Linked DNA regions of Homo sapiens: region 2 is linked to region 1. Evidence: fine-mapped expression QTL. A gene starts in region 1. The other region holds a variant in brackets. All regions are shown on one strand. Distances are between the middles of the regions.

The links. PIP is the estimated chance that this variant, and not a neighbour inherited with it, causes the effect.
Region 2: its variant is fine-mapped to the expression of MRPL23 in aorta (GTEx, PIP above 0.99).

What each region holds. Positions count from the first base shown.
Region 1 is chr11:1,942,577-1,953,772 of GRCh38, reverse strand. MRPL23 (mitochondrial ribosomal protein L23) reads right to left here and starts at 6,441. Exons shown (of 5, transcript NM_021134.4): 1 at 6,394-6,441; 2 at 2,752-2,874; 3 at 1,564-1,646; 4 at 918-991. The coding sequence starts at 6,410. It overlaps SNORD131 (small nucleolar RNA, C/D box 131), which reads right to left and starts at 4,442; the gene lies at 4,297-4,442. RefSeq lists an enhancer at 3,775-4,512.
Region 2 is chr11:2,105,262-2,117,475 of GRCh38, reverse strand. No RefSeq gene overlaps it. Among named protein-coding and RNA genes, the nearest start is that of MIR483, 23 kb to the left of the region's middle. RefSeq lists a silencer at 2,838-3,108. The variant G/A (reference allele first, on the strand shown) is at 6,278.

The DNA of each region.
Region 1 (11,196 bases):
TTAGCCCCACAACAGGCCGGCTGGCCCAGGAGGCGGTTTCCACCATCGTGTGACTGCCATCTAGTGGCAGGGCCCGCCGGCTCGGCCTCCAGGGACCATTTACACCGGAAGACAACCCCATCCCCACCCAGTAAGGCCAGCCCCAGGGGCAGAGTGGGGAGGCCCAGGAGGCGGCCGGGGCAGGCTGTGGACATCTTGGCCCAGAGAGAAAGTGCCTCTGGGTTTGCCTGGGACTCAAAATGAAGAGCCCAAAGAAAGGCTTTGAAACTGTGGGTCTCACTCCTGACAAGTCTGGGTTTCAGAAACTGAAGGCCCAGGCAACGTGGGGTGAGGGTTCTTCCTCCCCAGAGCCCCCCAGGATACGTAAGAAAGCACCTGCTCAGAAGCAGCCTGCTGAGCCCTAACAAGTACGTGGGACCTGCTACCCTGCAATGCAGGACATGGGCCTCAGCCAACAGCCCGGCCAGCCAGACCTGCCTTGGCACCAAAGACCTTTGCCCTCAGGGGCCTCACACTCTGCCTCCGAGGCTGAAACCCAGCCAAGGACAGGCTCTCCAGAGGCCGGGGCCTCCCATGCTCTGACACCCTGGTGTGCGTTGGAGTTGAAACCCACTAGGCCTGTGATGGCTGCCTTTGCCCACAGAGAATTCAAACTTCAAAATCACAAAACGGCCGGACGCTGAGACGTGCCCCATGTGCCCCAGTGCTCACGTGCTCCCAGCGCCACCACTAACACCCCCAAGGCCGTGACGGAGCATGACCTTATGTGGAGCCTGCCTCTGCGCTGAGGCCCTGAGATCCGGCCTCACGGGGGCTCCCTGGGCCCCAGCGCAGCGTCTCCGGCACAAACATCCCCAAGGACACAGTTGCGAGGAGCCCCTCGGAGGCCCCGCTGGGGCTGGCCAGCTCACACGCACCAGCTGCACGTAGGCGACCTTGTAGTCCGGCTTCTTGATCCTCACGTTTCTGTGATCTCTTCTCTTGTTAGAGCCTGCCGGAAGGGAGTGAAAAAAAAATCAGAACTTTAAAAAAATCAGAACTTTAAAAAATTACATCCTCAGAGGTCAATGCCACTAAAACGAACCTCTGCTCTCTTAAAAATGTAAATATGTTTTTAAAAACTCAAAAAGGCGATTTCTCAGGGAAATGGGCACTGTAATCAAACGAGCCAGCACAGCAGGCTCCCAGGCTCCTCCCTTCTCCCAACAGAGGCCAGCAGGTTCTCAACAAAGGAGCGGACGTGGCACCAGCCAGGGCACACGACAGGGGCTTATGGAACAGACAGCGCTTTGCTCCCCAGCCTCAGCCACTGCAGTCCCACCTCGGGGGCTGACGGCAGGAGTCAGGGCTCAGAATGGACCCCGGGCCAGCCCAGTTGAATTCCAATCCCTGCTCTGGCACGTAAGCACCGTGTGACCCTGACAAGTCACCCTGTGCCTCAGTTTCCCATGAGCCACGTCAGACCAAGACCCCCATGCAGTAGCTGAGGCTGTGGCTCGGCGAGGTGGGCATGTGGCACAGATGGGCACGACACCAACAGGAGAACCTCCCATGGGCACTCACCATGCTGCACCCGTGTCCGCACAGCAGCCACGGGCACGTTATAGATGCCCTCGAGGTAATTCCTGAGGTCCACCCTTGTCATTCTGGAGGCGAAGGAGAAAGAAAACGGCATCTTAACCAGGCTAAAAGCCAAAAATACTGTCCCAGATGCACAAGCACCCGAGGCTGAGAGGCCGACAGACCAAGACCCACAGGGGGCAGGGAGGAGGGCTGGGTACATCAGCGGCACTAGTGAGGCCAGGCAGCCCCAGCAACACCAGTGCTGCTGGCTGCAAGACTCCCTACTCTGGGCACACCAGCATGGGGTGGCAGTGGCACAGACCCCACAGAGTGGGAGCACTGCCCAACCAACCCCTGGCCTGCTCCACAGCCCCACATGGCTCCCTGCTCCGGGCAAGTGCCTGTGAGAGGAGGTGACAGTCTCTGCACGCTCCTGGCTGGCAGGTGCCCCACCTCGTCTGCCCCGGGGCCCAGTGGCCGCATCAGGGTTAGGCCTGCTCTGCGGCTGATGGGACTGATGCGGTTCTAGGAAGTACCTTCTGGAAAGGCCTGCCTGGCATTCGGTGCGTTAACTGCAAGTTCCCTCTACTGCAGAACCTCACGGTCACTGTCAACTCAGCTTCTGGGCCCCTGCAGGCTGCACAGGCCTGACCTTCGCCCCCAGGGGAGCTCACGCTGCTGCCCCGCCTGGCTCGCATCAACCCTGAGCTGGGGACCTGTGAACTTAAACACTGCAGAGCAGCACCCCAGTTTTGCTCGTAGGGACTGTGCATTTCTCTGAAGGTCAAGCAGGCTCTTCTGAGCGGTTCTGTACATCACGGCCTGCTCCCAACCCAGCCTCTCAGGGCGCCTCTCCTAAAAAGAAGCTGCAAGAACTCAACAGAAGACGCGAGCACAGAGGTCCAAATTTTAAGGCTTCCAGTGAAGCCGTCCCCGGGTGGAGGGCGGCGTGCAGCCTGCCTGCCGGGCTCCACACCTACAGGCACTCCATCAATACTTGCCGGGCAGGGCCGCCTGAGGTGCCTTCCCAGCAGGAAGAGGCTAGCACGTGAGCAGAGTTGTTTTAACTCAGGACCCAGGCCCCCCTGAGGGCACTCTCCCAACCCAGCGGGAAAACTTCCGGGCTCACTCCACGGGGATCCCCCCGAGGGTGCTCCCCAACCCCAGCCGGAATCCTCCCGGACTCACTCCATGGGGATCCGGAACTGCACGGTGTCCTCGGGCTGGGCCACACCGGGCCGCACCAGCTGAATGAAGAAGTTGGTTCGGAACACCCGAAGTTGTGGGCCACCCAGCCGGTACAGGGGGTACCTGTACAGAAGAGATTGGGTCCATGTCACACACTTAGGCCAAGGCAGCCCGACACACCAACCCTGCAGACCTCCGAGTGTCCACTCACAACAGGGTGGGCAGAAAAGGGGGTAGCTAACACTGCGGATCCCTGAGTGTCCACTCCCAACAGTGGTGGGCGGGAAACGGGGTAGCTAACCCTGCAGACCCCCGCGTGTCCACTCCCAACAGTGGTGGGCGGGAAACAGGGTAGCTAACCCTGCAGACCCCCGCGTGTCCACTCACAACAGGGGTGGGCGGGAAACAGGGTAGCTAACCCTGCAGACCCCCGCGTGTCCACTCACAACAGGGGTGGGCGGGAAACGGGGTAGCTATCAGCAGGTCACCACCCAAGGACACAGAGGTCCCCACAGCCCCTTTCTCACATGGGCCTGCCAAGGTGGACGGCCAGTCCCTAGCATCGACTTAAGGAGCATGCGCTGTTGACCCCCAAGGTCAGACTTTAGAAAAGGCCAATGGACAAAAATCAGAACCCCGCAGACAGCATTCCCCCAATAAGCTGATGGCAAGGCTCAAAGACGTGTGTTGGGGCACTGATACCCCTGGGAGAGCAGACCCCACGCGGCCGGCCCACTCTCCTGCTGCTCGGGTGAAGTGGAGCTGCAGAGAACCACACACCATGGGACAGAAAAGGCCAGCTCCGCACTCTCCCGGTGGCAGCAGGGCCTAGCTCCTCGGTATGGAGAACGCAGGCTAACCAGGCTTAGGCTCCTGGAAGACGGTGCTGCCAAGACTCTGATTCAGTACACTAAATGTGAGTTGAGTGCACCACACCCCAGCACTCCACTAAAAGCCAGCAGAGGCAGATGGAGAGGTGCCAAGTGGCCACCGCAAACTAGACCAGCACGCTGCCTGGGCTGGGGGGCCAGGTGACGATCGTGCAGAATCTCTAGCCAGTTGGTTTCGTGCATTCTCCCACGTTCAGCTGGGTGGACAGGCAGCACCGTCCTACCGTCCCCCACCCCCGTTCCCGCCCCTGCCACTGCCGGCACACCCTGGCTCTATCTGGGCCTCAGAGCTGGGGGGAGGAGGGGCACAGGAGAAACTCAGGCCTGCTGGGTCTCGGGGGATGTGGGGTCTGAGAGCCTAGGTGCAGGTCTTGGTGGACGGGGAGCACAGGGGCTCTTGAGGGGTCTCTGGTGGCCTTATCTGAGGCACTGCACATGGCCCTGGCCTTGGGAGCACCCAGCACCAAGTTAAGAGGGGCTCCGTGAGGCCAACGCTGCCCCAGGCTTCACATGAATTTCACGCTGGCCTCTGCCTGTCTAGGGAAGATGAGGAGGAAGTGAGGGTCAGAGGCCTTGGGTGGGGTGTTCCTGAAGGGCCAACAGTGGTAGGCAGCACTGAGCCTCTGGGCCTGAGGGCCTGGCAGGGGCCAGGAGCTGCTGGGACCTCTCAGAGGCAAGGCGCCTGTAACAAAGCCCGATCACTAATCATGTCCACCCCAGGCCTCCTGATGACCACACTGACACATGGCAGCCTGGTGGCCGGGCCAGTGGGGCTGAGTCTTCACTCACCCAACCCCAGCAGAGCCTCCTCTTGGGCATGGCCTTGGCCTTTCCAAGCCTCAGAGTGCAGCCTTCAGGGGTGGGCCCCAGTGAGAGGCCGAGAAGAAAGGGTGGGCTCTGGAGGTGGAGGGGCCTGACTTGTTTTACCCACAGGTTCAGGCTAGCCATGGCCACCCGAGGGGCTCACACATTCCCTCTGGTGACCAGCTGTGGGACTGCAGGAGTGGAGACAAAGTTTGGGGACTCCCAGTAAACAGTAGAAAAGAGGGTTCAACAGCTCCCAGGCCATTAATTTTCGAGTCTCCAGGCTTGGGGCCTGAAGGGCACACTTTGCTAAGGGTCTGAAGGGCCATGTGTGGGCTTGAGATGAGAGGCTGGCAGGGGTTGGGCCAGGACGATTCACTGTCCTTGTTCCCACAGGCCGAGCCTCTCCAGGCTGGAGCGCCAGCTGCCTGTGCATGGAGCCTGCAGATCTGGAACAATCTGCACTGTCGACACCCAGGGCCCCAGGACAGGGCTCTAAGGCCTCTCTTTTGTTCTCGAACCCTTGTGGGCCCACCAGCCCTCAGTTCCCTCAGTCCCACTCTCCCCAGGGAGCACCCCAAGCACTCCGCATGGGATTTCACAAGCACCTCCACGGTAACCTATCTCAAGTAGAACTCTGCACTAACTTCTTCCTCAAAACACAAAAACCTGGCTCACTGCCACCAGCCTGCCTCCCCACGGCCCCACGAGTGACTCACCCAGGATCCCACCCTCTCGGCACCCCCACCCCAGCTGCATCCAGTCCACAGCAAGTCCAGTCAGCGCTCCCTGCAAAGGCTCCCTGGCAACAGGAGTGTGTGCACTGCTGGGCGAGCGGGCCCCGCTGCCTCCAAGGCAACCACACCTGATCCGTTTCCAGGGGCCCACCACCCTTGGCCCTTCAGGAACACCCCACCCGGGTCCTCTGACCCTCACTTCCTCCTCATTCTCCAGGGACAGGCGAAGGGCCAGCGTGGAATTCACGTGAGGCTCAGGGCAGTGTTGGCCTCACTCAGACCTTTTCTTCCTTGGTGCTGGGTGTTCCCCAAGGTCAGGGCCACGCGCAGCACCGGTCCCAGGTGTCTGCTGAAGGAAGCCTCCTCCACTGGGGGTCCCACCTGCCACCCTCCCCTCTCTCCCCAGCTATGTGCAGGGGCCTCCAAAGCCACACCCTGGCCCCTTGACCGTCCCTCTCCAGAAACACTGATTACTGTTCTCCAAAACCCACCCGGGAGCCCACATCTACTGATTACGCCTGAGTCATTCGTTCACCAAGAAATATGCAGGGCTTCCTGCTTCAATTTGGGGAGGGCGAAGTGGTGCAGGACAGCGCCCCGATGGCCCCCTGGGAATCCAGAGAACATGCAGAGTGGGCGTGGGGGGTCTGGGCTGAGCAGAACCGGGCCTCCCGCCCTGCCTGCCCCAAAGCCCTGAGGGCTGCGGTCAGCTGCCCTTTCCCACTCAAACCCAATCTGGATTCCCAGCTCCTCTGCCTCAGGCCGCGCCCGCGCTGCGGTGGGGGCCGCCCGGGCCTCCCCGCCTGGACCCAACAGCCGACGTGGCCCCCGCCCCGTGACGATCAGAAACGTCTCCAAACAGCTCCCTCGGCCCTGGCTGCGGGACCAGCCCCGGGCCTGACCCCGGGCCACCCTCCCACTCCCCACGCGGGGGCACCGTGGCCTCCATGGGTTTGGCTCGGACCCTCTGTCCCCAGCCCGGCCACGCCCGCCCCCTGGGGTTGCCCTAAACCTGGCGGGGGGCTCCTCCGCCACCCGCCTCGCGTGTCTCAAGGCATGACAGGGGGTCCCGGAGAACCCTGCCTCGCCCGGGCCAGGAGGCGGCCCAGGGACGCCCACCCCGCTCCCCGGAGTCCGCGCGCCCTGTGGGGTCCGTCTGCTTGTGACACTAAGGGGCGCCCCGCGACGGGGGGGTGACGACCCCTACTCACACCACATTCCGCGCCATGGCGGCCACGCGCGCTTCCGGGGTCCGCGAGGCGGAAGGAGCAGCGCGCCCGCCCCGCACGGCCGCCGCCTGGCACAGCGCCCCCTCGCTTCCGGAGGCCGCGCCGCCCCCCCCGCACGCGCCAGCGCCCGTGCCGCGCGCCCGTGCCGTCCCCAGCCCTGCGCCCGCCCCGCCCCGCGCCGCCTTCTTCTCCCTCCCTGCCCCCCTCCTGTCCCGCACCCCACGTTCCTCCCCGCCCCGACCCCCACTCCCCGCGCCGCAGACTCCACAGGACGCGGGGCCGCAGCAGTCCCGCCCCGCACTCCCGGCCCCACAGCCTGAAGCCCGGGCCCGCGCCCCTGCTGCTCGCGCCCCGCCCACGCCCGCACCCCTCCCAGCCCCAGAGACCTCCCGCCGCCGTCGCACTCTTTCGGGCCTGTCTGCCCTGCCTCCCGGGACCCCGGCCTGCACGCCCCCCACACCCGTGCCCCTGCCCTTTGGCAGCTCCAGGCCACAGCCTGGCCCCGCACCGCTGCGCTTGCAGCTGCTGGGAGCTGGAAGTGGAGAACCGGGGCTGTAGTGCTGGGGAGGGCGGGTCCCCGGGCCTGGGGTCTGAAGCCCCTCTCTCCATCTGGCTGTTTTTACCCGGGAGCCCGGAACCCCAGGGCCCCTCACCTCGCCCTTCTGGCCAGCCCGGTTGGCAGCCCCCACGCTGGCCACACCAGCCACGCTGTCCATCCTCGGTGCTCCCACCACGCCTCCTCCAAGAGGGCCACTGGCCTCTTCAGGCCTTGCCGTTTGCTCACCCCCTCTCCACCCTTCTGGCCAGCCCCCTCCAGCCTCTGGCAAGGCCCTCTCTACAGGGACCCCCGTCCAAGGCCCAGTCCTCACTCCTTTCCTTGGGTAGTGCTGGCCAGGAGGGCTGCTGGGACCCTTCGGGAGTAGAGGGCAGCAGCCTCCCTCCCCTGTCCCCAGGCCTCTCCCTCCTCCCCTGGTTTCCTCTGCCTGGTGGCTGGATTCAGGCCACTTCTCCATCTATCTCTTTAACTGCCCGTGCCCCCCACCCCCAAGCCTGGCTTGTTCCCGCACCCAACAGCACCCTAAGTGTTCTTCAGAGCAAGAGGCAGGGGTGTCATGCTTCAGAGCAAGAAGCGGGGCCATGGGTCCTGGTTGTTGCTGGGGGCAGGGGGCCCAGGCCTGCAGGTGGGAACAGGGCTGCGGGAGGGCACTGGGGTTGATGGAAATTCAGGAGGAGGAGAGGGCACTGTGCCCCTCCGAGGGCCTGGGCCGGGTAGGGCTGGAGTTCCTCCTGATGGGTGGGTTTGAGTGGAAATGACTCCAGGGGGTCTATCTAGCATGAAGGCATTGAAGCAGGATGGAGTGAGAAGTGGGCCAGAGTGGGCAGGGAAGGTGGTGGCAGCCGTCCCCACTGTTGTCCAGGCCTGCGTGAGGTGGAGAAGCTCCAGGCTGCCAGTGGCAGGGTCCCAGGAGGCTGGTGACCAGACAGGCCTTTGCCCAGCAGCAGGTGCCCTTGGCCAGGCCCAAGGAGCAGACCGCAGGACAGGGATGGAGCTGGAGAAGGGGGGTCCTGGGGCCGGGGGTCCTCAGGCTTCCTTTTATGTTCATGCAATGCTGCCTCTTTCGGCAGCCACATTGTGCAGTGTGCTTAGAGATATGTGGCTGCTGGAAGTTGGGTTCAGAGTTGTGGGTGGCCGATGTGGAGAGGAGGGTGATTGGAGGCCGAGCTGTGGGTCACGGGTGGGTGCTGCTCAGATCACTGGGGCTGCTGGAGGGCGGCGGTTGAGCTAGGAGCTGAGGTCCTTCCTCAGGGCGAGGCAGGGGTGGGGTCACAATGGAGCAGACCCCTCACCACTCCTTCCATCCCTGTTTCTCTGATAGTCTGCTAATGGGATCCTCCGGAAGGCATGCTAAGTATGGGGGGTCTCTGAGATGCCTGGGGAGCCAGTGGAGACCTCCTCTTCCTCCTTCCCACCTGCCATTGAACACAAATGCCAGCGCGGCTTCCGCTCTGCCTGCCTCTCCTGAGATCAATGGTCTGCACGGGGTTGAGGCTGCCAGATAAATACAGGCCCAGTTAAATCTGAAGTTCAGATAAACAACTAATAAATTGTCATTTTATTTTTATTTGTTTATTTATTTGAGACAGAGTCTCACTCTCACTCTGTCGCCAGGCTGGAGTGCAGTGGCGCGATCTTGGCTCACTGCAATCTCTGCCTCCCGGGTTCAAGCAATTCTCCTGCCTCAGCCTCCTGAGTAGCTGGGATTACAGGCGTGCGCCACCATACCCGGCTAATTTTTGTATTTTTAATAGAGACAGGGTTTCACCATGTTAGCCAGGATGGTCTCCATCTCCTGACCTCGTGATCCGCCCACTTTGGCCTCCCAAAATGCTGGGATTATAGGCGTGAGCCACTATGCCTGGCCCTTATTTTATTTTATTGTATTTTATTTTTTATTTTTTGAGACAGGGTCACGTGTAGCCCAGGCTGGAGTGCAATGGCACAGTCTTGGCTCACTGCAGCCTCCACCTCGTAGGTTCAAGCAGTTCCCCTGACTCGGCCTCCCGAGTAGCTGGGATTACAGGTGCGGGCCCCCACGCCCAACTGATTTTGTATTTTTAATAAGGATGGGGTTTCGCCACGTTGGCCAGGCTGTTCTCGAACTCCTGACCGCAGGTGATCCACCTGCCTCGGCCTCCCAGAGTGCTAGGATTACAGGCATGAGCCACTGCACCTGGCCCAATAATTGGTCCTTTTTAAGTAGACCTTATCTTTTAGAGGAACTTTGGGCTTACAGAAAAATTGCTCAGGGAGTATACAGAGTTCCCACAGACCCCCTCTCCTTGAGTGCCCCTCCATTATTAACATCTTGCATCGTGTGGTGTGATCTGTTCCAATTGATAAACCAATACTGATGCATTACTATTAAGTCCAGAGTTTACCCCCAGGTTTCATCCTTGCAAAATGTCCTTTAGCCACCACTATGGTGTCACACAGAAGTGTCACTGCCTGAAAAGCTGCCTCTGCCCTGCCTGTGCATTCCTGCCTCCCCCGGCCCCTGGCAGCCCTGGCTCTTTCCACTGCCGCCTTGGCATTGCCCTCTCCAGGCTGTGGTATCATTGGAATCATACAGCACGTAGCCTTTCGAGATTGGCTTCTTGCCATGAGTGAGATGCAGCTAGGGCTCCTCTGGGTTTTTTTGTGGTTTCATAGTGCATTCTTTTCGGGCCGGATATTGTTCCATTGTCTGGATGTACCTCGGTTTATCCCTTTGCCTACGGAAGGACTTCTTGTTTACTTCCAAGTCTCGGCAGTAATGAATAAAGCCTCTGCAAACATGTGTGTGCAGGTTTTAGGGTGGACACAAGTTTTCAATTCATTTGCAGAAACACCCAGGAGGGCCATTGCTGGTTGTATGGTAGGAGGACGTTTGATTTTGTAAGAAACTGCCCCGCGGTCTTCCAAAGTGGCCGCACTGTTTGGCGTTCCCACTGCAAAGGTGGTGCTTCCTGCTGCTCCACGTCCTCAGCAACTTCTCATCGGTGTGTCGGGACATGCTCTTCTGCTTCCACCTGCTAGACCTGAGCCAGGAGCCCCGCTGCAAGGGCAGCCCCTAAACTGAGCTTTGCGAGTCAGGCTGGGGGAGCTGGGGCGTTTTTACAGTGAGGGTCCCTGAAGGGTTTTAAGGGAACGTACGAATTCAGCTGGGAAAGCACTTTCAGCCTGCAGATGAGAATCAGGTCGTGGGGGAGAGGGGCCGTTCACACATACACTCACTCATTCATTCATTCGTACAGAGGGTGGGGGGAGGGGCTGTTCACACACACACTCATTCATTCATTCATTCAGAGGGTGGGGGAGGGGCCGTTCATACATACACTCATTCATTCATACAGAGGGTGGGGGAGGGGCCGTTCACAGATACACTCATTCATTCATTCATACAGAGGGTGGGGGGGAGGGGCCGTTCACACATACACTCATTCATTCATTCATACAGAGGGTGGGGAAGGGGCTGTTCACACATACACTCATTCATTCATTCATTCAGAGGGTGGGGGAGGGGCCGTTCATACATACACTCACTCATTCATTCATTCAGAGGGTGGGGGAGGGGCCGTTCACAGATACACTCATTCATTCATTCATACAGAGGGTGGGGGGAGGGGCCGTTCACACATACACTCATTCATTCATTCATACAGAGGGTGGGGGAGGGGCTGTTCACACATACACTCACTCATTCATTCATAGACTCATTCATTCATCCCGCCAATAAACACACAAAAAGGTGCAAACACTTGTAGCGAAATCACTGTAAGCACAAACCAGTGAGCCACCATGTTCAAATGCAGGTTTTCAAAGATTAGGAAGAAATGGCAACCCCCTTGTTTTACCCAGCACCTACTTGTGCCAGGCCCTGGCTGCAGATCACCGGCTCTCACTGTCCAGGAACCAGACAGCCCAGGGGAGGCCAGACCCAGGCACCAGGATCCCTGGGGCAGAGCAGGCAGGACTCACAGGAGAGGCACAGGCAGCTCAGAAGGGTTGTTGCCAGCCCTTGCCCATCCTGCAGGCCACAGCGTGGACCACAAACCCTCCTTGCCTGCGTCCAGCATCCTCAGACCCTGTGTACCGGCTGGGTGACCATGGCTCTGGGAATGTGGCTTGCTCACATCCACAAAGCCATTGTGCATTACACCAGGATAGAACCCAGAAGACACCACCCCCCCAAACAGCCTGCGGCCCTCCCCAGAGCTGTGATAGACACACCCATTGCCCCAAAA
Region 2 (12,214 bases), 160 kb before region 1:
CAGATCACTTGAGGTCAGGAGTTCAAGAGCAGCCTGGCCAACATGGTGAAACCCCATCTCTACCAAAACTACAAAAATTAGCCAGGCATGGTGGCACGTGCCTGTAATCCCAGCTACTCGGGAGGCTGAGGCAGGAGAAGCACTTGAACCCAGGAGGTGGAGGTTGCAGGGAGCCAAGATCACACTACTGCACTCCAGCCTGGGTGACAGAGTGAGACTCCATCTCAAAAGAAAAAAAAACCCCAAAAATTAATATATAGGAAATTGGAGTTCCAGAAGGGGAGGAGAGAGCAAATGGAGCAGAAAAAAAAATATTAAAGAAATAATGATGAAAAAGTTCTCAAATTGATTTTAAAAACATAAACTTATGGATTCAAGAAGTTCATCAAAATCTGAATAGGATCAATTTGAAGAAACAAAATCTGAATAGGATCAGTTTGAAGAAAATCATGCCTAGGCTCATCAAAGTCAAATGGATAAAAATGAAAATTAAAAAAGAAAATCTTGAAAGAAGAGAACAAGGCACCACATAGCAGGGAATGGTGAATTGAATTGCCACAGACTTCTGGTCAGAAACCATGGGGGCTGGAAGACAATGGAATAACATTCCTTAAACCCTGAAATGTGCTATCCCTTTGGCTCCTGTGGCCACTTGGTCCAGTTTTACTGTCCCGTCATTTTGTTTTCCTTGTTGCTCTCCCTTCCATTAAGCACTGGCCTCATCCTGGCCTGGGCTTCCTCTATCCTTCCCTTCCTCCAACTTCACCCCCTGGATGAACTCTTCCACACCACAGCTTTGATGATGGCATATGTCCTGAAGACTCCCAAACGTGGAACTCTTGTTTCGCCCTCTTGAGATTGGGCACGTAGATCCAATGCCTGCTCAGTTTATCCACTAGCATGTGAAGCTCTTCCTCCCATCTCAAGGAATAACCATCCCAGCCCCTCAGTTGTTGACACCAGAATTCTGGGTGTTAGCAGTCCCCATCTCTCTTACCTTCCATCACATCTAATGAACCTGCTATCTGGCAAGTCTTAGTCCTTACAAGCCAGCCTTCACTCCAGAAGTTTCCACAGACAGGGTGTCACCCTGTGCTACCTGCTGTACATCTGTTCTATCACTTCATCCTCAAAAGTAGAGCTATTCTCCGCATTTTAATTGATGGCCAACTGAGAAAGACAGGGACCTGTTGATGGTCGTTCCATTGTTCTTGAGTGCCCCAGGTTAGCCACTGTGCTGGGCATTGGCCACGTAGCAGACGGGCAACTGCAGACTCACAGCTGGAGGCACAGACAGCCAACAAGGAGTCCATTGCCCTGATGGCATGATGTCAGGCTGCGGAGAATAGCAGGGCCGTGGGGTTGCTCACCCCAGTGCCCCCAAGTCCTCCTGTGGTCAGGCAGTACCCACGCCATCTTGCCTCCCAAGGCTGAGGCCAGAGATGTTTGTGGGCCTGTGTCTTCCAGGCAGTTCCCGGCCTCAGCACAGTCATCTCTTCCTTCCTCTACCAGGTACAGCTCTGGGTGCAGGTGAAATGGAAGCAGCCTCACCCTCCTCCTGCCCAACCCTGGCCAGCTCAGAAAGCCACTCAGAGAGGCAGCCCTAGGGTTTGCCTCCACTCCTCACTGCTGACCTGAGGCCAAGGGCAAGCTGTTCTGAGGCTTAGGACCCTCTGGCACCAGCTCTAGACCCCACCTGGGGTCTCCCTACTGCCCCAGGTCAGGCCTGAGGGCTTGCTTGAGGGTACAGTTTTGAACTACGCAGGTGGAGGACCCAGCCTGCTGCCCAGCTCTCCTGCCTCCCCAGACTCTGGGTGTGAAGGTAGGGCTTTCGCATCACATTTCTCCCGCTCATGGGGCTGGGCGTACCGAGAGCCCTCTGTGTGTGTCTCCCTAAATGCTCCCCATGTGTCAGGGGCAGGCTCTGTGCTTACCAGCCCCACCCGCCAGGTAAGAAGACTGAGACCGCAGCCGGCGAGTGAGGGGCAGGCCGGGGTTACTCAGGGTGCGACCAGGAGGCTGCCCTGTGTGTGTCCCCTCTGGGCCATTGCTCTGGCCCTGGTGCCCCTCCCTTCCCCTCTACGCCTCCTCCACCAGGCATCTCCCCCACTCAGGCCCAGGAAACACCACCTGGAGCTTGGAAGATCCCTCAAGGAAGGAGGGCGGCTTGGAGGAGGGAGGCCAGTATCCTGTGTGCGGCCTCCCTTCTCTGTCTCCCAGAACAGGCCAGTCTCCGCCGCTGAACCCACCACTGGGCAGTGGCGAGGAAGGGCTTCTGTGGTGCCCCAGCAGGACCCCATCAGGTGTGGCTGGCTCAGGGCTGAGTCGTCTCTTCTTTCAGCTGGGCAAGATCCTCCCACTAGGGCCCAGTTCCTGTCTGAACGCTGGGTCCAGGCCAGGGCCCGTGTGCCCAGGGGTGTCTGGGTCAGGCCCTCCATGCATCCCTGTCCTGGGAATGCCGGGGCATGAGTCGGGGAATCAGCTGGCACTGTCTCAGAGCACGAGCACTTCCAGGCGCTCAGGGCAGACGGCAAGCCCAGCTTGGGCGAGGCCTTCCCCTGAGCGCCTCTGGGCCTGGGGGGCTCCCTTGTGGAAAACATGGGAGAGGAAGCCTGAGGGGGTCGGCTCCTTACTCCTGGTCTTTCCCGCTCACCCAGCGCTCCCCGGAAACTCCTTCCTGCAGCACTGGGATCTGACATCCCGGCACGTTCTGGAAAGTTCCTCACTGAACGTTGTGCATGAGAAGAAACTTGGGGCAGGGCCCGTCCAGCTAGGAGGCGTGCACCCGCCACTCTCTGCTTGTGATTAGCAAGGAGGCGAGGGCTGTGCTCTCTGCGGTTCACCAGGGGGTCAAGAGAATTCCCAGATCCAGAGGAATCCCACTGCTGCCAGGCCTGAGACAGAGGGCCCTACGGGATGGCTGCAAGCTCGTGGGATGGACTGCAGGAGGCCGTCCTGGCCTGGGCGAGTAGGAGATAAACCACTGCCAGATAGGAGACCGTGCTGGGTCGGGGGATCTGCCTCTGCCAAGTTCGCAGCCTGGTGGGGGAAGCCAAGGAACATACGGGATAGTAAGGAATGGGCAGAGGGAGCCCCAGGAAGTGAATTTCTCTAGTCTGGGCTGGTCGGTGAGGGCTCCCTGGAACCTTGAGGAGAAGCTCCAGGAGAATCTAATGGGGAGGGTGAGGTGGTGGAGGGTGGAGGGGGCAGGGGAGAGGGCAGGTCTATGAACGGGGCTGGGAACCATCCCACCAAAGCCTCCTGACAGGGTGGTGTGGCTGAGTTTGGGGCAGGAGGTGGGACTGAGCCCAGGTCTCCCAGCCCATGGGACGTGGGCCAGCTGCCAGTCTCACTTAAGAATGTCCTTGATGAAGCATTAAACTTTATTAATTCTATTAAATCTTGACCCTGGAGTGTGTCTTTTTAATATTCGCGGAGGCACGCTCAAAGCACTCCCACTGTAGCCGGAAGCATGCCAGCGTCCCCAGGAAAAGCTCCTGCACAGTGGTTTGAGTTGCAGGCTCAATGGGCTGCGTGCACCGCTTTTACTGAACCGGCGACCGGCTGGATGTTTCCTCAGAGAAGAACAAAAAGATCCACTTAGAGAAAAACAACTCCTGGATTTTGCTGTTGGTGACCACCTTGGAGCTTTCATGCAAACAGCAGAATTTTGAGAAACTTACAACTGCCCCCTTGAACCAGACGGTTTTCCAATCCTTAAAGACCTTCCTGAGGAGCCTGGTGGGGACAGTCACAAATGTAGTTTTCCATAACAATAAAGAATGGCATCCACTCCTGGAAGAGCTGCCTGATTGTGAGATTGATATTTTCCAAACGATCAATGCGGAACGTTACAGAGGCACACACAGGAAAAGATCCTTGAGGCCGAGGCGGGCGGATCGCTTGAGCCCAGGAGTTCAAGACCAGCCTGAGCAACATGGTGAAACCCTGTCTCTACAAAAAATGTTAAAATTAGCTGGGTGTGGTGGTGCATGCCTATGGTCCCAGCTACTGGGGAGGCTGATGTGGGAGGATCCCCTGAGCCTGGGGAGGCTGAGGCTGCAGTGAGCCATGATCATGCAACTGTAATCCAGCCTGGATGACAGAGCAAGACCCTGTCTCAAAAATAAAAATAAAAACAAAAAAGAGGAAAAGATCCTTGGAAAGTGCAAGATACACCAGTTGACTCGTTCCATAATACACCTTTTATTTTGGAACAATTTCAAGATGACAGACGAGTTGCAAGGATTGTACACACAGCCCCCCTCGCCCAATCCCCCTTTGTTAAGGTCACACCTGACTGTGGTATGGTTGTGACAATTAAGAGTGTGACATTGCTTCTCGACTTATTAATGTAACCCAGGCTTCATCTGGAGTTCACCAATGTTTCTGTTCACATCCTCTTTCTGTTCCAGGATCCCATTGAGGGTCCACGGTGCATTTGTTTATTTTGTTTTTTTTTTTGTTTTGTTTTGAGACGGAGTTTCTTTTTTTCTTTTTTTTTTTTTGAGGCGGAGTCTCACTCTGTCACCCAGGCTGGAGTACAGTGGCACGATCCCGGCTCACTGCAAGCTCCGCCTCCTGGGTTCATGCCATTCTCCTGCCTCAGCCTCCCGAGTAGCTGGGACTACAGGCGCCCACCACCACGCCCGGCTAATTTTCTGTATTTTTAGTAGAGACGGGATTTCACCATGTTAGCCAGGATGGTCTCAATCTCCTGACCTCGTGATCCACCCACCTTGGCCTCCCAAAGTGCTGAGATTACAGGCGTGAGCCACCGTGCCTGGCCACATTGAGATGGAGTTTCACTCTTGTCGCCCAGGCTGGAGTATAGTGGTGCAATCTTGGCTGACTGCAACCTCCACCTCCCAGGTTCAAGTGATTCTCCTGCCTCAGCCTCCTTAGTAACTGGGATTACAGGTGCCTGCCTCCATGTCCAGCTAATTTTCATATTTTTAGTAGAGACAGGGTTTCACTATGTTGGCCAGGCTGGTCTCGAACTCCTGACCTCAGGTGATCTGCCTGCCTCGGCCTCCCAAAGTGCTGGGATTCCAGGCGTGCACTACCACGCCCAGCCCCGGTGCATTTGGTTATGATGCCTCTGTCGTTTCCTAAACTGAGGGACTGTAACATCACGGAGTCTCTAAAGGTCATGGGTTTCAGATTCTGCATTGCAGCTAAGCTTGAAGAAATGACACTTGTCAAGTTTTGGTGTAGTAGCAAAAAGAAAATCTACAAGCGCATAAGGCCATTAAAGTACCAGCGCCCCCCACCCCCCACTCCCAACCACGTATGTTCGTAGATGTCCTCATCTACATTCTTCCCATGCGCTGGCCAAAGCCTGCAGAGGCGTGATGGGAATCCGCTGCCTTCCAGCAAGCCACAGAGATTCGCAAAGTGCAAAGACATCTCACTCTTCTCACGGAACTTGCTTTGTTTTGAAAAGCCTAGTTGTCTTTTGTAAACAAATATTTTATGTTAATGTGTAGTAGTGAGTTTATTATTGCTGTTGTGATTTTACTGTTTTGTGTTCATTTGTTTCATATGGTTTTGAGTCAGGGTCTTGCTCTGTGGCCCAGGCCGGAGTGCAGTGGCACAATCCAGGCTCACTGCAGCCTCGACCTTCCAGGCCCAAGTGATCCTTCTGCCTCAGCCTCCCGAGTAGCTGGTGTGTGCCACTATACCTGGCTTTTTTTTTTAATTAAGGATATTTTAATGGCCTTATGTGCTTGTAGATTTTCTTTTTGATTACTCCTCCTTGTAATTCCAGCACTTTGGGAGGCCAAGGTGGGAGGATCACTTGAGCCCATGAGTTCAAGACCAGCCTGGGTAACATAGCAACATAGCCCAGGCTGGTCTTGAACTCCTGGGCTCAAGTGATCCTCCCGCCTTGGCCTCCCAAAGTGCTGGAATTACAGGCATGAGCCACCATGCCCAGCCTCTGTTGTGACTTTTAAATTAATTCATTTAACCTATTTTTAAAATTTCTAATATTTTAAATATTGAAATATTTCAATGTCTTAGTTGTAACTTCTAAGACAGTAAATATCAGCAGGGGTGACCCCGTATCAACCCACTCTCTTTAAGGACTTGTTCATAACTTTGGGGAATGCAAGAGGCCCTGAGGCCGGAACATTTGAGAACCGAGGTCGAAGAGCCCAGGCTTAGGGGCCAGTAGCTGTGCTTATAATTAGCAGAGGGGCAAGTGTTTTGACTGTTTCAAATCCTGGAGTGTTGCCTCGCTTTTCTGTTCCTCAGTGTCCCCCTGTGCAAAAGC[G/A]AGCACCTGAGCACGGGGCTCCCACCGGATGCGCGTGTAAACAGCCTGGCTCGGGTTTGTTCTCCACAAAGGGAGCTGCTGAGAGTGGCATTAAAAAGTGATGGACAGACGGTCCTTGGACAAGAGTAAAACTGGGTTAGGACTACAGAAAAATCACATGGAAAGCACAGTGAGTTCCCATGGACCTCCTGCCTCATGCGTCCACCACAGTTTCCCCTGTTATTCACATGTTGCAATATGTGGGCCTTCTCTTAGAATTGACCAGCCAGCACCAGCACACACTGAGGTCCAGGCTCACTCTAGGGGTTGTGCATTCTATGAGTTTGGACGCAAGTTATCATGCCCTATATCCACCATCAGACTATCAGACAGAGTAGTTTCACTGCCCCCACAGTCATGGTTCTGCACCTCTTCCTCCCTCTCTTCCTGCAAACGCTGGCAGCCACCGGTCTTTTCACTGTCTCCATAGCTTTGCCTTTTCGAGGACGTCATAGAGGTGGAATCCTACGGGCGTAGCCTTTGCAGAGTGGCTTCTCTCACTTAGTATCATGCATTTGGTGCTCCTCCATGTCTTCTTGCGGCTCACAGCTAACTTCTTTTTAGCACCGAATAACATTCCTCGGCATAGAGGTACCGCTGTGTGTTTACCCACTCACGCACTGAAAGATCTCAGTTGCTTCCAAGTTTTTGGTGATTATGAATAAAACTGCTATAAATACTTGTGAGCAGGTTTTTATGTGGATGTAAGTGTTCTCTTTGATTGAATTTTATTACAAATTACTAACACATTATCTCAAGACAATGCCTGAGGCAGCTCCTCTGTGCTCCTCTGCTGGAAGGGCTTCTGAGATCCTACGCTGTGGTTTTAAATTGTAGCGTTCTTTTTTTCTGGAGTTTTAATGTTCTTTGTGTAGGTTGCTGGTTCCACTTCCAGACTTCCACTTCTCCTCCCCAGCCTATATCTCCATCTTTGCATCAGTACCGTGAGGTTTTAATTATTGTTACTCTAGAACATGTTCTAACTTCTGGCAGGCTAAACTTTTCTGCTTTAAGCCCCTTCTATTTTAAAACATTTCTTTAAAACTTGCCTCACATCTTCCTTTCTGAACCTGGCTCACAGAGACCCCTTCCCCAACTCAATGCCACCAGAGTGAGCTTCTGCAGGCCTCAGCGCCCCAGCTGGGCTGTGGCAGCCCTTTGAAGGCCCTTGACCTGCCCAGCATGGCTGCCAGCTCCTGCCCACTCCCATTGTACCCCATGAGAAGCCCAGCTAGTTTGTGTGCTCTGGGCTGGGTCTTGGCAGCCTGGGTGGAGCAGCTGAGCCCACCGTGGCAGAGAAGGGTGTGTGCTGGGAGCCCACCCTCCTCTGACCTGCACGGCTCCACTGGTCAAGCGCGAAGCCCAGGGGTTCCTGGCGGGGGAGTTGCAGCCTGGCCGTTTCCTGGAGGGCTGGGACTGCCCAGCCCAGCCGAGGGCCTGGCTGCAGCGCCACCTTCTAGGCAGCCCGCATGCTGAGGCCCCAGCCCTCCCCTCATGTTCAGGGAAGACCAGCTGCTTCCTGTTTGTGTGAAGAATTCGGCTGTTTTCCCGAGTGGTGGGTGAGGGTCCAAGCACCCAGTGGGACGGTCGCTCCTCGTTTCTGTGGGGCCTGCTGTTCTGAGGAGAAACTTAATCACTTTGTTTTCTTGGTTTAGGTTTTGCTTTTTAATAATAAAAAAAAAAAAAGACCCAGCTTGTCTGCAGCCCCAGGGCCCTGTGACGTTCCTGGCATAACAGGCGTTACTTTTACACGGGCTGCTGCAGTGGGCGGCTGGCCGGGAGCTCCCGGGGAGGGCAGTGGGTCTCATGGACTCGGCCCTGCCCAGCTGGGCGTGGGCACCGCTGCCCGAAAGTGGGGGGGTCTGAAGGAGCCGACCCCTGCGTCCCGTGCTGGCTCAGCCGGGCTCCCTGAGGGCCCTGACCCTCTCCCAGCCATGGGTCAGTGCTGGGGAGAAGGTTCTCAGATGCCGGGGAGGCCTGGGAAGGAGAAGAGCCTGCAGGCTCCCTCAGCAAGGGCTGGCAGGTCTGGGAACCGCCAGGCCACCTGACTTCCAGGGCAGCCCCTCCGGGAGTCAACACCCGCCCCCTCTCCCAGAAACCCAAGCCAGGAAAGATGGGGGACAGAGCCCTGGCACCCCCACTCTTTCTGGCACTCTCCCCTCAGAGGCCTCAGCTGCTGGACAAGGTCCTGGGCTCCCTGGGTTGCCCTCTTGGCCCAGGCTGGGGATGGAGAACAACGTACAGTCGGTGCCCTGGTGTCCCCCAGGGCCTCAGGATGCCTCCCCCACCCTCCACCAGCTGTTCTGCCTCCCAGCCGGGCCCTTCCCTATCCCACCCAAAACGCTGGCTCTACCCTTCCTGCCCTGTGGCTGGGGAATCTGCAGAGTCATGGGGCCAGGGAAGGGGACAGTAAGGAGGGACCCCTCGTCTATCTCAGCACTGGAGGGGTTCAGGGTCCAGGGCTACCCCAGAAACAGTCACTGTCTCACTGAAGAGCTCCAGGCACACCTTGCCCCTGGCGCTCAGGGTGGCCTGAGCTGAGCCTATTGTGGGGAAGGAGGAGGGGGCTGGAGGTGTTGGCTGGGCCAGGTCACCAGGTGTCGGCAATGGAACCACAAGAAGATGGTCAGTCTGGGGCTACCTTGCCCACTGCTTCTCTCACTTCATGTCATTTGTGGAAGAAAGAAGAGCATGTCAGCTGCAGGTCATGGTAGCCATGGGCCTAGATCTGCACTTCCAGGAATTCGGCCACTGTGCGGCCCCCCTCACATTAACAGGATGGATTTGTGTAACCAACAGTGGGAATGACGGCGGGTGACTTCTGAGGCCAGGTCATAATTGACACTGCAGCATCCTTCTTCTTCCCCCACCTCTCTCCCTTCACTCCCTCTGGGGAAAGCTGGCTGCCATGTTGTGAGGATGCGCAAACCTCAGAGGTTTGTGTGGAAGGACTGAGCATCCCTCCGACAGCCACACTAGGTTGCCAGGCATGAAGGGGACACTTCAGTCCAGCAGGACCTTCAGATGGCTGGGGCCCAGGGCTGGTGGCTTGGCTTGGGGTGTCAGGGGGTGGCAGCCAAGCCAAGCCACAACCACCAGGCTAAGCTGCTCCTGTACTCCTGACCCACAGAAACTGAGATGATAAATATCCATCACTTTAAGTCTTTATTGTTTTAAGTTTTGGACTAATTTATTCTGCAGCCATAGGCAACGAACACCGTCTTCTGGCAGGGGTGAAATAGATGCAACTAGACCAGAGGGGACAAGGCTGGTGCAAGGAAGGCTTGTAAGGACGGAGAGTTGGAGGGGAGCTCAGGAGTCCTGGCCTTGGGTCTGGCCTGGCTCTGAGGCTCAGCAGCTGTGAGCGCTGGACAAGTCTGCCTCCCACCCAGATTAGCCTGGGTGATGAGTGTGGTGTGTGGCAGAGGCGAATAGCCTATGATCACACAGGGAGGACCAGTGTGAGTCACACAAGGGACAGCAATCAAGGGTGACATTGGAGGAACTTGGCTTGTGGTATGGGTACAGGGGACACCAGGGAAGCCTGCAGATGGCTCAGAGTGGCCAAGTCCCCAGAGCAGGCACAGAGGAACAAATCAGAGCATGGCTCAAAACAACGGGCAGCCAGCACCTGCACAGTCCAGCTGGGTACATCTCTTTTTGCCCTTTCAACACCTGGGGCCCAGCAGTTGTTCTCAGGTCAGTGTGAGTGGTCTGGGAAGACAGCTGCCCACCTGGGCCTTTCCACTTGGCTACGTTCCTGGCTGGCATTCAGAGAAAGGGCATCCACCCATCCATTCATCCATCCATGCATCTATCCATCCATTTATCCAGGCATCTATCCATTCATTCATCCACCCACCATCCACCCATCCATTTATACACCCAGTCATTATCCATGTATTCATCTATCCATCCATCCTTTCTTCCATCCATCCATCCAAGCATCTATTCACTCACTCCTACATGTATCCATTTATCCATCCATCTATCCATCCATCCATGCATGCATCCACCCATTCATACACCCACTCATTCATCCATGTATTTATCTATCTATCCACCCATCCATGTATCCACCCCTCTATGCATCTATTCATCCATCCATTCACCCACTCATTCATACATCCACTCATTCACCCATGTATCTATCTATCTATCCATCCATCCATCCATGCATCCACCCATCTATGCATCTATTCATCCGTCCATTCACCCACCTATTCATACACCCACTTATTTATCCATATATCTATCTTCCATCCATCCATGCATCCACCCATCCATGCATCCACCCACCCATTCATCCATCCATCCATCCACCCACTCATTTGTTCATGTATCCATCCACCCATCCATCCTTCCTTCCATCCATGCATGCATCCATCCATCCATCCATGCACCCATCCATGCATCCATCCATCTTCCTTTCCTTCCTTCCTTCCTTCCTTCCTTCCTTCCTTACTTCCATGAATCCATGCATCCACTTATCCATCCATCCATCTGTTCATCCATCCATCTGTTCATCCACCCATCCATGCACCCATCCATGCACCCATCCATGCACCCATCTGTGCACCCATTCATCCTCCCTCCCTCCCTTCTTCTCTTCCTTCCTTCTTTCCTTCCTTCCTTCCTTCTTTCCTCTTGCCCTCCCTCCCTCTCTTCCTTCCTTCCTTCCTTCCTTCCATGGATCCATGCATCCACCCACGCATCCAGCCATCTACCCAGCCAACCATTTACCCATCTACATACCTTTCTAGCCCCCACCACATACTCACATGGACATCTGGGGGAGAGCATCTCATGGCAGGAGCAGCGGGTACAAGGCTTGTAGAGAGGTGATGTGGCGTCTCTGAGGAGTGGTGGATAGGGAGGAAGCATGGGTTGTTGAGAAACACACCTGAGAAACCAAGGGGAGCTTGCCCAGGAAGGCATCAGGAAGCCCTGAAGGGGATGCAGCTTTTTCTTGGAGAGAAGTGGGGCTAGTGGAGGTCTCTGCTTAGGAGTGAAGGGATCCTGTGGCTGCTGAGTGACCAGAGTGCAAGAGGAGAAGTGGAGGCACCTGCTGGGATACACACAGAAGGGAGTGACTGGGAGGGACTGGTGGAGGAGTGAGGGTGGTTGCACCCTGGTGTGTGCTGAGGGCAGAGTGAGAGCCTTTGCTGAGGGCCTAGAGGAGTGAAGAGCCCAGAAGGCCCCTGGGAAGGATGGCATCACCTGACAGAGAAGAGGAGAGGCAGAAAGGTACATTTGGAGTTTCAGGGCTAGGCGGTCATGTCCACAGAGGCCGGGGACATCCGTGAGAGGGGAATAATGGACAGACAGCACCTGCCAGGTCATGTTGCCAAGAGGCCCCTGGCCAGGAGCTCAGACCAGCCTGGGCAAGTGGTCAGGTCCTGGCTGCTGGCTGTGGCCTTCGTCCTGCTGGCCTCTCAGATGTCACAGGGAGCTCTCGGAGCCTCTTGAGCTGTCCCCCAATGGGCTGCTACCTGGCTCCGAGGCCTGGTCCCAGCCCCACAGCCCCAACTTGGTGTTCCTTCAGGGCAGAGACAGATGGGACAGGGGTCAGTGAGGGGAGGAGAGTTCTCAGGAGGCGGTGCTTGGGCTGGGCCTGGGGAGGGAAGCTCCAGGGTGCTCCTGGGGCAGCAGGGTGAACCAGCTCTGACGTTTTCTGTATTAAGGAGCATCTGAGAAGGGAGAGAACAAACGCTTCGCTTTTCCACATCAGGCACAACATGATCGGTCATCCGTTTTCATTCCGGGATCTGGAAAACAGCTGATTCTGGAAAGCTACAACTTCCCTAGGTGCAGAGCTCTGTGGAGAAGGGCTCCCGCAGGGCTGGGGGTGGGAGCTCAGGCCCCAGGCACTCCAGAGCTGGCTCAGGAAAGGGTAAG